2 separate regions of the Homo sapiens genome follow, and region 2 is linked to region 1. A link means that fine-mapping ties the variant in region 1 to the expression of a gene that starts in the linked region. Tissue or cell type: thyroid. Region 1 holds a variant in brackets; the other region holds the start of a gene. All regions are shown on one strand. Distances are between the middles of the regions.

Evidence for each region. PIP is the estimated chance that this variant, and not a neighbour inherited with it, causes the effect.
Region 2: PRKAG2 starts here. The variant in region 1 is fine-mapped to the expression of PRKAG2 in thyroid (GTEx, PIP above 0.99).

The regions. Positions count from the first base shown.
Region 1 is chr7:151,688,976-151,697,153 of GRCh38, forward strand. The region is part of intron 3 of PRKAG2 (protein kinase AMP-activated non-catalytic subunit gamma 2); the gene reads right to left. Among named protein-coding and RNA genes, the nearest start is that of PRKAG2-AS2, 110 kb to the right of the region's middle. RefSeq lists enhancers at 1-1,613, 3,824-8,178. The variant C/T (reference allele first, on the strand shown) is at 3,169.
Region 2 is chr7:151,873,088-151,881,265 of GRCh38, forward strand. It overlaps PRKAG2 (protein kinase AMP-activated non-catalytic subunit gamma 2), which reads right to left and starts at 4,028. Exons shown (of 16, transcript NM_016203.4): 1 at 3,420-4,028. The coding sequence starts at 3,533. It overlaps PRKAG2-AS1 (PRKAG2 antisense RNA 1), which reads left to right and starts at 3,955. Exons shown (of 3, transcript NR_038926.1): 1 at 3,955-4,053; 2 at 4,750-4,779; 3 at 5,475-6,136. RefSeq lists an enhancer at 2,771-2,890 and silencers at 3,081-3,220, 3,281-3,330, 4,093-4,522.

The DNA.
Region 1 (8,178 bases):
AACCTCCAAACTCAGAAGTCTCTGAGGAGCCCTGAATAGGAGAAAATGTGGCTGAAAATGAAGTGGAAAATCAGTGTGATAACCAAATCAAGATCACGCCTCGCTGGGACCCTGTCACACTAAAGCTTCCAGAGCATAGTCGTTTTTAAAATCTGTAATAGTACCTGGAGTTTTTTCCTGTGCTTTCTATAATTCAGCTCTTTGAGTCTGCTCTGAACCCTTGGTGGTAGCTCACTGCTCATGAACAGATCCCCTCCTGGGGGGCTCCAGTGGCCTCCCACAATGGTCCCATTCCTGAGCTGTTTATCCTCACTCTGGAGGGCTCCCTCTGATCATCCAGGCTCACGGCTCTGGATGAGGCACAGGTGGGAAGGGCTGTGGGTGATGCAGGGAGGGCTTTCAGTCACCATCCCCTCCTGGAAGTGTATCCCAAGCCATTTCCAGGTGTACAGCTCTCAGGGGAGACAAGAATGCATTGTTCTACCTGGCACGATGGGGTGTGGGCCACGTGGGGTATGGGCCACAGAAGCACATTCCCAAACCTCCACTTTGGAGAGCCACGTACAGCGAAGCAGGAGAAGGCGGCAGAGGCGGGGATGGGGAGACCGTCTGTGAGTGTGGTTCCTGCCCGGCTTTCCCCTTCCCGCCAGGTCTCCCAGGAGGCCAGGTGGCGGCTGCAGCCGGTGGCAGACACTCCCTTCCTGGGGTGCTGGCTGCAGCCGGCTGCCATGGGACTCCAACCAGGGCTCTCCTGGGGTTCTGTTGACTCAACACATCATCTGACGCCACCCCGGCAGGCCCTCTGGGTGTCAGGTGCCAGTGAGACGGGTTGGGGAGGCTGGGACGGTGTCCAGACTGCCGCCTCTGCCCCAGAGCTCGTTTCCATGGTGCCGTTCCCAGCTCCAGGAGCTCTCCTCATTCACATCATGAAGGGAGAGGCAGGGATCGTGAGCTCTAGTGGTTGTCTGCCTCCAGTGATTAATTGGTACGATTCTCCACGGAGGAGGAAGAGAAGAGGAAGGAAAGCTGCAGATGAAAGGGAAATAAGCGTCTCGTGGTGGAAACAAAAGTATTGGTTGCATCCTTTCAAAGACGATCTGGAATCTCAAACCTAGGGTTTACCTCTGCCCCTCGATGGCAACAACAATTCTGGGAGTTCAGGGCCATGATAAAAAATGACAGCATCACACCTGAATTGCTGCTAGTGTTTTTAATAGACAGGTAACCACTCATCCCGAGGGAGGTGGGAAAGGAGCCCTCTTGCTAGGGAGCTTGGAATTCCTAATGCTGCCTGTGTCTGATGGACAGTACCTACCCCTGGTAGAGCTCGCTTCGCGGGGAGGGAGAACTCAGCCCTCTGTTTGCATGATCTGAGGCTCTGGAAAGCCCCCTGCCCCCTTCCAGATACCTCATCTACTTGACAAACTTCCAAGATGCCCTGCCTCCCCTTTCTACACATTGCTCTTCCCCGAAAGGTTCCTGCTCTGTTATTCTTGGTCAATCTGCAGAAGGCAGGCCGGATACTCCACAAAGGACCCAAGAGAGGAGCAGCCGTTAGGAAGGTGCAAGGCTGGGAGGGAAGGACAGGACCAGGGTTCCCGGATTCAATTGTACCACATCATACATGTTGCCTCCATGCAATTTTCTCTTTAGTGCCAGGTTTCTAGAATCAGTGCATGAAAAATGATATCTGAATACGGTGCTTAGGGGAGCCGGGTTTTTTCCACTTCTGATTCACTCCACAGCTTCAGCATCTATTGTCAGCTAAGCTCATCTTCTGTGAAGCCCTCACTGGTTTCTAGAGTGAATCATTCCTCCTTTTCATGCACTTAGCACATTCCAATGTTATCAAATGATAGAGTGCTGGGTTGTTTCCTGATGCACCTCGGGTCTTCCACTAAGCGTGAATGGCAGTGAGTCTCGCTTATCGCTATCCCATGGGGCCTGGTGCACTGTCCCAGCTCAAGAAAGATTTGTGGAGCTTGCTTTGTACATAGTGCTCAACAAGTAGACAAATCTAACTTTAAATCTTAAGCTCTTTAAAATACGCCGTTAAGAAAATGAAACAAGAAACATGACAGAGAGAAAACACAGCTATCCCTCTGTGTCTGCAGGGAATTGATTCCAGAACCCCTCTCAGGCACCAAAGTCTAGGATGTGCAAGTCCCCGATATAAAATGGTGTAATACGTGCATATGACCTATACACACCCTCCTGTATACTTTAAATTATCTCTGGATCACTTATAATACCTAATATAATGGAAATGCTATGCAAGTAATTATTATGCTGTGTTGGTTTTTCATCTGTATTTTTATTGTTGTATTATTATTTTTATTATTTTTTCCCCTGAATATTTTTGATCTGAATTGGTTGAAGCTGAGGAGGTGAAACCTGCAGATATGGAGGGCTGACCGTATTGCAAAACACATATATGATAAAGGACTTGTAGCAGAGTATATAAAGAACTCTCAAAACTCAGTAACAACAACAACAAAAAAAACTCAGTAAAAAAAAAAAAAAAGTGGACAGAAGATTTAAACACATACTTCAGCAAAGAAGATATACAGATGACAAATAATGATATGATATTCACCATCATTAATCTTTAGGGCTATATACATTAAAACTACAATGAAACATCACTACACCTACTAGACCAGCTAACGTCTACAAAAACCTGACAATACTAAGTGCTGACAATGATTTGGAACAACAGGAACTCTCATTTGTCACTGGTGGAAATACAAACTAGTATAGCCATTTTGGAAAATAGTTTGACAGTTTCTTCTGTAGTTAAACATACATTTACCATACAACCTAGCGATGCCACTCTTAGAAGATATGAAACCTTGTTCACACAAAATCCTGAATGCAATGTTTTCAGTGGCTCTATTCATAGTTGCCCCAAACTGGAGACAATTCAAACATCCTTCAACTGGTGAATTAATAAACTGGTACAGCACTTTGGGAGGTTGAAGCAGGAGGATCATTTGAAGCCAGGAGTTCAAGACCAGCCTAGGCAACATAGTGGGACCCCATCTCTACAAAAAATTAAAAAAGTTGGCTGGGTGCAGTGGCACACTCCTGTTGTCCCGGCTGCTTGGGAGGCTGAGGTGTGAGGATTACTTAAGTCTGGGAGTTCAAGGCTGCAGTGAGTCATGACTG[C/T]GCCACAGCACTACAGCCTGGGCGACAAAGTGAGACCCTGTCTCAAAACAACAAAAAAACAAAAAAAAATGAAAAACAAACCAAAAAACTGGTGCATCTATACAATAGAACACTACTCAGTAATAAAAAGGAAAGAACTCTTAATATATGCAACACAATGAATTAATCTCAAATGCATTTTTCTAAGTGAAGGAAGCCAGGTCCAAATATATACATACTATATATTTCCATTTATACAACATTCTGGAAAAAGCAAAATTATAGCGGACAGAAAAAAAAGTCAGTGTTTGCTGAGGATGAGGGGAGAAATTGACTATAAAAAGGGATGCGGAAATTTCTTTGGGTGTTGGAATTGTTCTATGTCTTGACGGTGGTGCTGATTACACAACTGCAGATGTTTCTCAAAACTCTCAGAATAGCACATTTTTTTTTAAAAGGGTGAGTTTTACTCTACGTAACTTATAGCTAAATAATCCTGACTTTTACAACAGTGCCCTAACATGAGTTCGGGGGGGTTGTCTCTGCAATGGGGGAAGCAGGTGCTTTTCCCCTGGGCCTTGAAGGAGGGACAGGCAGGGCTCGGATGGAGACGCCTCAGCATGATGGTGGAAACCTTGCCTCCGCCTTGGGGCCCAAGACCTGCTCACATAAAAATAGCAGCTGAATTCCCTCTCCCTCTGGCCCAAAGGTCATCTCCTGAAGGTGACAGAATGGAGCCACTACCAGGGGGCGGGGGAGTGCGAGGGGGAAGGAGCGAGGTCTCAGAGGCTCAGGCAACCTGGGCCCTGTCACCCAGACAACTCCCTCCCCTCCTGGAGACAGCTGTGCTCACACAGCCTGTACCCTGCCTTCCCCTGCTGTTGGGAGAAGGGGAGGGGGCAGGAGAGAGCTGAAAGGTTAGGCTGGGAGCAGAAAGGGAGATCCCACTCCTTCACCCGCCCTCACCTTCCACCAGACTCAGTCACCCGGCGCTCCTGAGGACAGGGGTCTTTGGTATATCTCTGCATATCCCTGAAAGGTGTGGACAGGTCAATGAGTCTTCTCTACAGCGGCTCTTGGCACAGGTCCGAACATGCAGAAAGCCTGATGATGTCCTGCTGCCCAGGGCAGGCCTGAGACCCGCAGCACAGGAGGCCCAAGGCGGCCATAAGGAGACCCAAGGCCCTCCGAGGGGCGCACGAGGGGTTCCAGGGAAAAGTGAGAAGGTGAGGCCCTCACCAGGTGGCTACTCATCCCAGAGAGGAGTTTGCAGGCCTGAATATGCCCCACCCGTCCCTCCTCCAGGCCCATCACCTCCCCGGGCCATCAGCAGCCACGCTAGGCCCACGAGAGGGTTCTATGCAATGGCTGCACCTTGAGAGCTTGCTTTATTTTTAGCTTTAAAAGTTGTGTTTTAAAGACATCTATATACTGAGTATAAAAATATTTACAAATATCCAAGAAATATGTTAGTAAAACTTTCTGAAGGCTGTGGTCTGAATGTGTGGGTCCCTGCCAAGTCCTTATGTTGAATTCTACCCGCAAGGTGATGGTGTTAGGAGGCCGGGCCTTGGGAGGTGAGGAGGGTGGTGCCCCATGCCCTTACAAGAGGGACCGCAGAGAGACCCCTCCTCCTTCCACCATGTGAGGACGCAGCCAGGAGGAGCTGAAGCAGGTCCTCAGCAGACACAGAATCTACCAGCACCTTGGTCTTGGACTCTAGCCTCCAGAACTGTGAGAAAGAAATTTCTGTTCTTTTTTTGTTTTGAGACGGAGTCTCGCACTGTTGCCTAGGCTGGAATGCAGTGGTGTGATCTCGGCTCACTGCAACTTGTGACCCCTGGGTTCAAGCAATTCTTCTGCCTCAGCCTCCTGAGCAGCTGGGATTACAGTTGCTCACCACCACACCCAGCTAATTTTTTTCTATTTTTAGTAGAGACAGGGTTTTACCATGTTGGCCAGGCTGGTCTTGAACTCCCGACCTCGAGTGATCTGCCCGCCTCAGCCTCCCAAAGTATTGGGATTACAGGCGTGAGCCACAGTGCCCAGCCACAATTTCTGTTCTTTATAAGCCACCCAGTCTATGGTATGATTACGGCAGCCTAAACAGACGAAGACGCTGAGTTAGCTAATTTGTTGATCCAAACAGTCCACTCTTTTTAAACATTTATTTTTGATTTTGTTAAAATGCACACAACCTAAAATTGACCATCTTCAAGCGCACAGTTCAGCAGCATTAACCACACTGCTGTGCAGCCCCCACCACCACCATCTCCAGAACCATTTCATAGTACAACACTGAAACTCTGTCCTCATAAAAATAACTCATTTCTCCCCACCTGCAACCCCTGGCAACCATCTTCTACTTCCTGTATCTGGGAATCTGGCCACTCTAGGGACCTCATATGAGTAAAATCTGGCAGTGTCTGTCCCTTCATGACTGCGTTCTCTCACTCAGCACAATGCCCTCAAGGTTCATCCACAAGGCAGCACCTGTCAGAATCTCCTTCCTTTTGAAGGCTGAATACTATTCCACCACATCTACACACAGCACGGAGGGCTTTCTCTCACAATTCCCTCCCGGCTTTGCCATCGCTTTGCTATTGCTCTGTGTCTCCCAAGAGATCGCTGCCCCTCCTAGGTCTGCAGCTTCCCTTTCCTGTGGTGACAGCAACTATGGTTGCTGCCTGCATGGCCTGGTGTCCCCATGTGCCCCCAACACCGAGGGCCAGAGCAAGGAGTAAGGACATCCGATGCAAACACCGCACCCACACGTTTCCTGGGGATGCCCCAGTCCCTCCGGGTCAGAATCTGTCAGCCTGTGCCCATGCCTGTCCCTTCCTTCTGGGCCACGGTCACAGGACTTGGGTCAGCAGGCCCGGGCAGGGAGGGAGCCCGGGACAACGCCAGACATTCCTGCCTTCCTGCAGCCAAGTTTCCGATGTGCTGTTGGAGGAATCCTGCCAAGGGTAATGTGACATTTACATGATGCCTGGTGGGGCTGCCCAGTGACATAACAGGGGGGTTGGGGGTGTGTCTCTGGGCACAGAGCCTGCAGCCCGGCAGAGTCTGATGACACTGTGTTGTGTAAATTGAAGCGACAGTCACCTGTTTCTCTAAGTCATGGCTCAAACCTGTTTCCTCTTATGTGACCATAAAATCACACCGCCTGTCACCTTGATCTTTGGGACTCTTCTGTCTTCCTTCTGAATAAAGCTACTTGATAAACACCCATCCACTTCCTGCAGGGGGAGAAGGCCAAATGCCCTCAGGTGCATTCTTTTGAGAGAGTCCAGAGAGCATGAGCCCAGCCAGAAGTAGGCATTTGTGATGGCCTTTCTGTGCACTTGTGCACACAAACTTTCTCGTGTGGGTGCCCTAAGTGCCGGCATTGTGCAGGAAGCTGTGTTGGGGGCTGGGAGCACAGTGGTAGCAGACACCATCCCTGCCCTCTTTCAACTGATTTTGCAAGGACTTCAGGAACACATTCTAGCACAACTAACTAGAGCTGCTCACTTATGAGCAGAGCCTCAGTTCAGCCATCAGTGAAATGGACAAATCAAATAGGAACTCTTGAATGGGCCACCTCCCCTGGGCAGCAGGGTGGCGTTGCTTCCAAGGTGTGCTTAAAGCCGGCTCTCTTCTTTGTGGTCTGAGCAGAAGCTGTAAGGCTAGGCCCTGGCCTTGTTCTTAGCTGTCCCTGGCCTACAGACCTTTGAACTAATCACTCTTGGTGGTCTGAATTCTCTGTAGACAGGTGGAAACCGTAGGCACTGTGTCCTCCAGACCTCAGCACAGCAAGAACAGTCTGGTGTTCATCCGGGCAGAGGAAGCAGACCCCACCCTGTGTTTACACGACACCAGCTCTTCAGGGGTCCGAGGGGGCGGGCCTGATGCCGGCATAAGGTTTGATGTTGCCAGCTAGAATCGCCAACACATCCCCGGAAGCCCAGTGGCTTAGCCTCCTATCAGTGCCTCCTCTGCAGCCCCTGCCAGGGCTGCCAGGAGCTCAGCCGGCCTTTGTTCTATTTCACCCCAACCAAATACCTCCTCCTCCTCCCTTCTCCTTATTCGTTAAAATTCAGCGCATGATACTGGCAAGCTTCAGCCGCAGCTCACAGCACTTTCAGAGGAAAACGTGGCGCGCCCGGGGCCTTCTCACAGCCATCGTGCAGCCGCCTGGGCAGCTCCCAGCTCCAATGGCAACTGGTAGCATCAGGAGAGTATGGGGTTCCCCAGTGGGGCTCCGGGGCAGCGCAACGCCACAGGACCTTGTGGTGGATGTGGCAAAGCATCTGCTCTGGTGGCCTGGGGCAGGTGAGGAAGTGAGCGCTTCTCAGGAGCAGAGCCAGGTCGTCTCTGCAGGCCCAGGCCTGCCGGCGCCTCAGCCCTGACGCCATCATCTCTCCTTTGACTGAGAACAAGGACCTCTTTCCTTGCCTAAATAGCCTACGGCTAAGAGGAAATCACCCCCAGTTACGAGAGGTTTCAGGAAGCCCCCCGCAACCTTCCACCCACCATCATCAAACTTTCAAAAGCAGAGAGTCTGGGATTTGAAGCCCCTGTCTGAAAAGTAGGTTTCAGATCCATCGGAAGGCAGGGTCAGGCCAAACCTCTCCTCTCAAGTCAGATAAAAACGATCACACCAGGGAGGAGAGGCCTGAAAAGGGGCAGCTGAAGGGAAAAAGAGCTGGAGAGTGGGGAGCAGCCCGGAGTGTCTCCTCTGGCTGGGAGGGGCCCTGTGGAGCTGGCAGCAGCAGCTCTTGGGAGCAGACAGAAGGCCGCTCCTTAGGACCAGGCGCTGCCACCTGCAGGCTCAGGCCCTGTTCACCTGCCGCAGATTCCCCGAGAGCCAGGCAGAAAAAGTGGACCCTGCCCCCAGAGCGCAGGCCCAGGGAGAGGCAGGCAGGTGGCCAGTCTGAGTCAGCGGGATGGAGGCGCCTGGCATGGGGAAGGGGTGTGTAGCCTGGGAGGGGCCTTGGGCGGGAGCATCCCCGGGGAGAGAGCTGGAGCCAGTTCCCTTAGGACACA
Region 2 (8,178 bases), 180 kb after region 1:
TAGTTACTACAGCTGGCAACCCTATGTCCAGGTCCTTCCTGATCCAGTCTCAAAGCATTTCCTATGACTCTAGCTCTCAAACCCTTTCGCCAGGAGGCGTGGCTCTTCACCTGGAAGCAGCCATCCCCTCCCGCCCGATTCTGTGGGGTGCTCCCACTGGTTCCTTAGTGGGAGTATCACCCCCACTTCTACGTGACTCCTGCCTGCCATCTCTGGGTGTAAAGTCTCTCTAAACACATCAGGCCACTGTCATCGCTCCTTCTGCCTCTAGAAACAGGTGTGGTCTGCACTGGCCATCGTATGACCCTGGATCATTTGCTAGCCTTTGTCTGAAAGCCTCATTTTCCCAGCGAGGTTATAACTGCCACCTAGCCTGGCACAATGATCCATAGGTAATGACCATTAGGCAGATGAGGGGACCTCCCTGGTACCCAAAGCAACTGCAAGCCCTGTGAGGACTTGGGCAGATCTTCCCCAGATCTCACCCTAACCAGAGCCTGGGCACGTGGTCACCCTCAGCCACTGTGGAATAACTGAATGAATACTACTTTCGCGGTGGGCTGGCTCATGCCAAGAACGTTATGAAAAGCTGCCAAAGTCACCACTGGCAGCAAGAAGGGTGGTCCGAGGACCCCAACTATAACATGGTTTTTCAACGTTCACGGCCTGGCCTCACAGTCCTTTTTCTGGTTCTGGATTTTGTCTCACACTATCGCTGGCACCACCCCACGGGCACGCCCACACATCACTCACACCCTGCATTTGGAACCAGCCTCAGCATGTGGCTGCCACACAAAATGGCCCAACCACTGGACAATGGCATGTTCTTGTTTCTCTCTATATATTTTTTTAAAAAACTAGGTGTCTGATGTATATGTATATGTATATGATGTATATGTATATGTATATGATGTATATGTATAAGTATATGTATATGATGTATATGTATATGATGTATATGTATGTATATGTATATGTATATGATGTATATGTATATGTATATGATGTATATGTATATGATGTATATGTATATGTATATGATGTATATGTATATATGTATATGTATATGATGTATATGTATATGATGTATATGTATATGTATATGTATATGATGTATATGTATATGTATATGATGTATATGTATATGATGTATATGTATATGTATATGATGTATATGTATATGTATATGATATATATGTATATGTATATGATGTATATGTATATGTATATGATGTATATGTATATGATGTATATGTATATGTATATGATGTATATGTATATGTATATGATGTATATGTATATGATGTATATGTATATGTATATGATGTATATGTATATGTATATGATGTATATGTATATGTATATGATGTATATGTATATGTATATGATGTATATGTATATGATGTATATGTATATGATGTATATGTATATGTATATGATGTATATGTATATGTATATGTATATGTATAAGCCATACATTTATAGGACACTTTACACTTGTCAAGAGTTTTCCCGGGATGGGTGTGATGGCTCACGCCTGTAATCCCAGCACTTTGAGAGGTCAAGGTGGGCGGGTCACTCGAGCCCAGCTCATGTGGACCAGCTTTGGGCAACATGGTAAAACCTCATGTCTACAAAAAAAATAAATAAATTAGATGGGTGTGGTGGCACATGCCTGTAGTCCCAGTTACTCAGGAGGCTGAGGTGGGAGGATCACTTGAGCCTGGGGAGGTTGAGGCTGCAGTGAGCCATGATTGCACCACTGCATTCCCACCTGGGGAGCAGAGTGACACCCTGACTCAAAACAAAAAAAACAATAAAAAAGAGTTTTCCCATGAATTACTTTATTTCAATATCCGTATAAAGCAGGAAAAATGGGTATTATTTCCTGCATTTGACAAATGGGAGAAACAGTAGTTACACGGTTAGCTCAAGTGATCACTGTTTAAGAGGTTTGTGGCAGCAACATCTAACTTTTAACTCACGAACATGGTTTTAAATGTCTTACATGAGAGATGTAAACAAGAATGTTTCATTTTCAAATAGAACACTTATTCCTGCATAATCGAGTCACCACCGTGGGGGCCACACAGCAGCCAGGGGTCCAAGTTTCCAGCCCCAGAGCTTTCCAGCCAGGGAGGGCTGGCCCAGGGCCCCTGTGGGGCTACTTGGCATCAGGTGTCTGGAGACCCGCCCCTGGACTCCACCCTCTTCACCCAAGCGTTAGGCACGTGTGGGCCGGAGTTTACACAGGAGGACCTTAGCGGGGCGTCTAAAAGAAGGGTGGCTCAGCAAACACGGGGCAGTGCGCCCTGGGATTCACAGTGGGAAGTGAGTGGCCTGCCTCGGCCATGCCAGCTGCGCCTGACCCTGTCGGGAAGGATTAGCTTTAATGAGGGGTCCGGACAGCCCATTCACTGCGCACTCCCACCCTGCCCCGGGAGAGCAAAATAACTTTCTCTACGGAGCACTCTGGTGTGTGTGTGTGTGTGTGTGTGTGTGTGTGTGTGTGTGTGTGTGTGTGTGTACACAAACATTTACTTGGTTGGCTGAGGCGGAGGGTGTGACCCAGTGGGCCACACCTCCCACCGCCCTACCCCGCTACGTGGAGGCGAGGAACAGTGGCCGCGGGCTACCGGGGCGCCTTCCGAAAAGAGAACCACTACGCGGCCCGCCGCCCCTCTGGCTGGACAAAGTGAAGCCGCAGGCAGATCCGAGTCGCCAATGTCCTCCCGGGCGGCTGGCGCGGACGGGGCTGAAGTTCAATGCAGCCTGCACGGATTAGGGAGCTCCGAGCCCCCAAATACCACAGAGACCCAAAGTACACTCCCGGGGCGGGGGAAGGGAACGGCGGCAGAGGAGACCCCCGCTCCAGGCCCAGAAACGCCCGGAGAGAAACTGGAGCGGAGGGGGTGCATTGGAAGACGCAGCTACACAGCTCCCCCCAACCCCCGCCCCGCTGCTTTCCCCACCCACCGCCCCTCCCCTCTCCTCCCTCCCCTCCCCTCTCTCCGTCTCCAGCAGCCGAGCGCGGGCTCCACCTCCCCGGAGCGCAGTCCACACCGTCCCTTTTCAGCAAAACAACACAACGCACCGCCCCCCGCACCCGCACCCGGCTGGATACCGGGCTACGCCCAGCCGCCCACCCGCCGCGCCCGGCGCCCCCTCTAGTCTGCAGCCGCCCAGCCCCCGCCCCAGGCGGAGCCCCAGCCCTGGCTGCACGCGGGCAGAGAGAGAGATTGAGCCCCGGCTCCGCCAGCCCAGCTCGGGCCCTGTCCCTCTACCCTTTCCCCAAGCCGCCCGAAGTGACAGGAGGGGCACGCACGGCGCGCGCGGGGCGTCCAGCGTTAACCGCTTCGGCGCCGGGGACGGGAGCGACAGGAGGGCTGGGGAGCAGGGGACCGAGTGCTGGGACTCACCGGAATGTGCACGCGCAGCGAACGCCTCTTCTGGCTGGCATTTTTCTTGCCGCCGCTCCCGCCGGGGCTGGAAACATCTTTTTTCTTCTTGGTGTCCATAACCGCGCTTCCCATAACTCTAACCAGAAGTTGATTCTGCGAAACTCCTCGGGGGTTCGGTCCCCTCCTTCCCTCCCCCGGCCGCTGCCTTCGGACTGGAGCCGCGCGCTCTGTTACACCCTGAAGCCACCTCGTGGGGACTTCCGCGGAGAGGGAGGGTGAGCAGGGAACTCGCGCGGCCGCCGCCGCCGCCGAAGCGCCGAATTCAAGCGTCCTTTCCTACGGAACCCTCGTAGGCAAATCAGTCAAAGCCCGTCCCGGTTCTGGTGTCTCCCCGGGTTACTCGTGGCTGAGGTCTCCCGCTGGGTGACAAAGTTTTCTTCCTTTTGCAAAGCTAAGAAACATTTTCCACCCTCTCGGCTCCTCCCACAGATTCCCAGAGGTAATCTGAAAGGCAGGTGCAATTAAAACCAGCAATTTGGAAAACAAGCCTCCTATGCCTGTGCCCAAGTGGGGAATCTGGAACCAGTAAGCCCGTTCGTGCATAAATGTAATCCTCGGCCGCAGAATAAACCAGCTCGGAGCCTGCAGCTGGGTCCGTCCTCCTTTCTGGGCGAGAGGGAGGGCGGCGGGGGAAGAGGAGGTGCAAGGCGAGCCCTCTGCGCAATTAGGCTACGGGCGGCCGCTGGCAGAAGTTCTGGCGGCGGCGCTCGCGGCCCTGCGCGCCGGAGGGGGCGCCCGGAGTCCAGCGGGCCAAGAAGGGCAGGGCGCCCGCTCCTCGCCCCCCGCCGCGCCGCGGCCCCAGGGGACCGCAAGGGGACAGTGAGGGGCCGGGCCTGGCACCGACGCAAGCTCGGGGAGCGCGGGTGGTGGGAGGCGGCGCGTGTTGAACAGGAAGTGCGCGGCGTGCAGCGCCACCGTCCCGCTCCCCGTCGCCCCACGCCGCCCTCGTCGCCGCGCCCAGACCCCTGCGGCGGCCGCAGCCGCTTGGGACTCGCTGCGAGCTGGTTTCGGATCCATCCCGCCTCCCGGCGTCTCACTGTGTGCCCTACCCTTTGAAACACGCCCCCGCGCCCGCCCTGCCGTAGACCAGGCAGCGAGGAAGCCCACAGTCTCCGGGGGCGCTGCGCGCGAAGTAGCACGTGCTTCTCGAAACACCGCAGCCCCCGGGTCCCGCCCCGCCCGGCGCGCGCACTCGAACCCGCCCAGAGAGCGGTGCGTGGCGCTGGGTGCGAGCAGGGTCTAGCCACCCCCACCCTCACCCCACCCCACCCCACCCTGCTTTTTTCAGGTTCATCAAGGTTTGCGCAGTGGATCCGCGGTAAGTGCGTGTCCCCACGCCGCGGGAAACGTGGGGCTCCTGAGACTGCGGAAAGAATTGGGAGAAGGGGAGGGCTCGAAGACCCGGGCGAGGGTTCCCGGTGCGGCCCAGGTCCTTTAGAGCCCCGGGTGGGCATCCAGTACCGCCTGCTGCCGAGGGCCCTAGAGGGGTTGGGGGAGGGGGCTGGTGTGTCCCCCACCCCCAGATGCGCCCCAGGATGGCGCGACCTCGGCTCCCTGGTGGAAAGTAGGGGGAGTGCTGGCTTGGGGGTCGCTTCCCCTCCTGCTCTAGTTTCTGAGGATGTGATGACCCCAAAGGTCATTGGCGCTCCCAGAATGCTGACGTCAGCTCAGCCGCTCCGAGTAATCAGTAATGCAGGGAGGCCACCCGCAGAAAGAACGCGACAGGGGTCGCTTTGGGGACACCATAGGGCCTTTACTCCTTTTGAGGTGCGTGCTTTCGCAGGACTCCCTCCCCAGAGGAGGAGGCATGATCAGCCCACCCAAAGGATCATCTCTTAGGAAGCAGGCGTGCGCCCACGCAGGGAGAAGCATCCTTCCTTTCAGCTGCTTGCCGGGTGGCTTTTCCAACCCGAGTTCCAGCAGCTTGCACAAAATCCTTACAGCTTGGGTGGTTCCCTGGCTCATAGGGGTGGGTTTATATTCTTTCTCCTTCTCCTCTGCTCTCTGGTCCAGAATGAAGCCAGCCTGGAAGATCCCCAGTCTCGAGACAGAGCCTGACAGGGGCAGATGCACTGGAAGGACCCTGTCTGGGTTTAGCAACCAAGCAGCCATCCTGGCCCCACAGGTGTGGGACTTCTGGGTCTTCTCCTGGCTGGCTTCTTGCTAGAGGATTTCAAGAGACCCAGCAAGACTGTATTGTCCCACTGAATGCTCAAGATATTGGTTAGAAGTAGAAAAGGGGAGGGGGTAGTATTTAGCCTCTGTCCCCACTAAAAATTATTCCCAATTGTCATTTGTGTCATCTGTTTAGCTTACAGTTTTAATCCTTGTCAAAATGATCATTTGCCAGGGTGCATAAAACACCCTATTTGATGAGAACTGGTTTTAAAGGAAAATGGGGCCATCAGAAGGAAGCCGGTTGGTGTGAAGAGACGTCTGGGAAGAGCCCCTGGCGAGGGCCCTCATTCCACTGGGTGACCCAGAAGGAGAAAACCGCGATGGCGCTTCTCATTTGAAATGTTTTCTTTATGGACAGTGTTTAGCAATTGTTATAATGTGTACTTTTGTTGATTGATCTGTATACATATGTAAAATAATTTGTTCTCTGAGTTAATTTTGTTGGAACAAAGACTTTAGTGCTTCCTACATTAAAACATTTTACTGTATTGCCTGCATTTTAAGAGCCTTTTTTTAATTTTTAATTTTTTTGGTCCTTGTGATATGACGAGGTATAAATTCTGGGTTTTGTCCAGGGTTCCTGGCTTAGCACTCTCGTCGCCCTCATCACAGTCTCTTGTTATAATGTTGGGGCGCTTTAGGCCTCAGACACCCCAGGAAACAATCTCCTCTGAACTTCCCCTGCCCTCCTTCACCACCTCACCAGCCCAAGGCAGGACTCTAATCCTCCCTCATCTTTCTGATTGTGGGACTTAAGACCCTCTATTCAGAAGGGGTCCTGCCCCATTCCCGAGAGGAAGAAATCCTGCACGGAAAGGCCAATAACGGTCGGAATAGGCAGGACTTGTTTGGGTGTCCACACTTACTCAGTCACTATTGGATCATACCTTTTTGTTCGATCACATTTCTGCATGGTCGTCAATCGTGTCTGTCCAATGAAGTCTCCTTAAGAAGCCCAAGAGGTCTGGGTTTGGGGGCTTCTGGATCCCTGGACATGTGGAGGCTGCTGGAAGACGGGGTGCCTGGGAAGGGCATGGAAACTCCGTGCCTGTTCTCCCTGTACATCCCATCATCTGTGTTCTTGGTAATATGCGTTATAATAAACCAGTAAATGTACATTTCCCTGAGTTCTGTGTTCCACTCTAGCAAATTAATGAACCTGAGAGGGGGTTGTGGGAACCCCAATTGAGAGCCCAGCCTGTCGGTCAGAAGCTCCGGATGCCTGGACTTGCAACTGCTGTGCGAAGTGGGATGGGGGTGGGGTGCCTTGGGGATTGAGCCCTCAACCTGTGGGATCTGCCACTATCTCCAGGTAGACAGTGTCAGAAATGAGTTGGAAGACACCCTGGTGTCTCCTGCGGAACTGATTGCTTGCTTGGCAGTGGGGAGAACCCCCAACACACACATATGGTGACACGAACCTTCCGCGTTGATGATTGTCGTAGCGTGAGAGCAGAGGAAAAAACAATTTGGGATTTTTCCCTTCAGGGTTCTATATATGAATATTTCTGAATTATGGGGGTTGCTTATAGATGATGTCAGAAGAAGTTTACCTGCCATTTTTTTCCTTCTAGAGATACATTAACAAATTGATCACATATCTTCTGACTGGTGGAGTCTCAGAGTGGAAGGAACACAGTAATTGTTTTGATTTGAGGTGTTTTCTGAAAACCCCCGTCTTCCCCTCCCGTTGGTGTGCACACAGTTATTTTAGCCAGGAGCTAAATGTCGCGGGCCCACGCGACGTTGTTCATATAATGACCCCTGACATTCACTCTTTCTCTATGCCCTACCTATGACCTCCTTCTCAACATTAATGCAGTAAAATCTGTGCTGAACAAAAGGCCAAAACTTTAAGTAAGGCTCTGACAATGTCACTGATTCTGCCTTTTGCCTCCGGTGCCAATATTGCTCGGCTCAGCACTGTTACTGATCCTGTCTTTGTGTAAAATTCTAATGTTTAGAAATATATTGCATTACATATTCTTTATCTTGGTGACTGAGTTTTTGGCACCCCCTTAAATTTTGCACCTGAGGCCAATGCCTCATTCACCTCCCCCTCGTCTTCCGAGAAGGATGAGAAGGAGAACTTGGCCAGGCCTGGAGCTGGGGCTGGGGCTGGGGCTGGGGCTGGAGCCGGGGCAGGGGCTGGGGCTGGATCTGGGGCTGGGGTCAGGGCTAGGGCTTAGGCCAAAGCACCCAGCTTGCTTCAGCCAGAGGAGCTGCCTCTGACCAGCTATGCAATGGGGGCAGGTCCCTTAGTTCCCCATCTGTAAGAGAAGTGGGATGGTCTTCAGAATATTTCTGTGGCCTCTTTAAGGGAGCTTGTATTTTTGTCCTGATTGTATTTGGTATGTCTTTGTTAATTGTATTGCTCTAGTAATTTATTTTTTATTGAATTTTACAAAGTATCATTCCACAGTAAGTTGGAAATTAAAAACAAACAGAAACAACTAAAAAACCACCCAAGGCCCTTCCTACAGATGGTTTGGGATAGCTTGTTGGAGAAAGGGGCATATTGAGTGTATCAGTCTGTTCC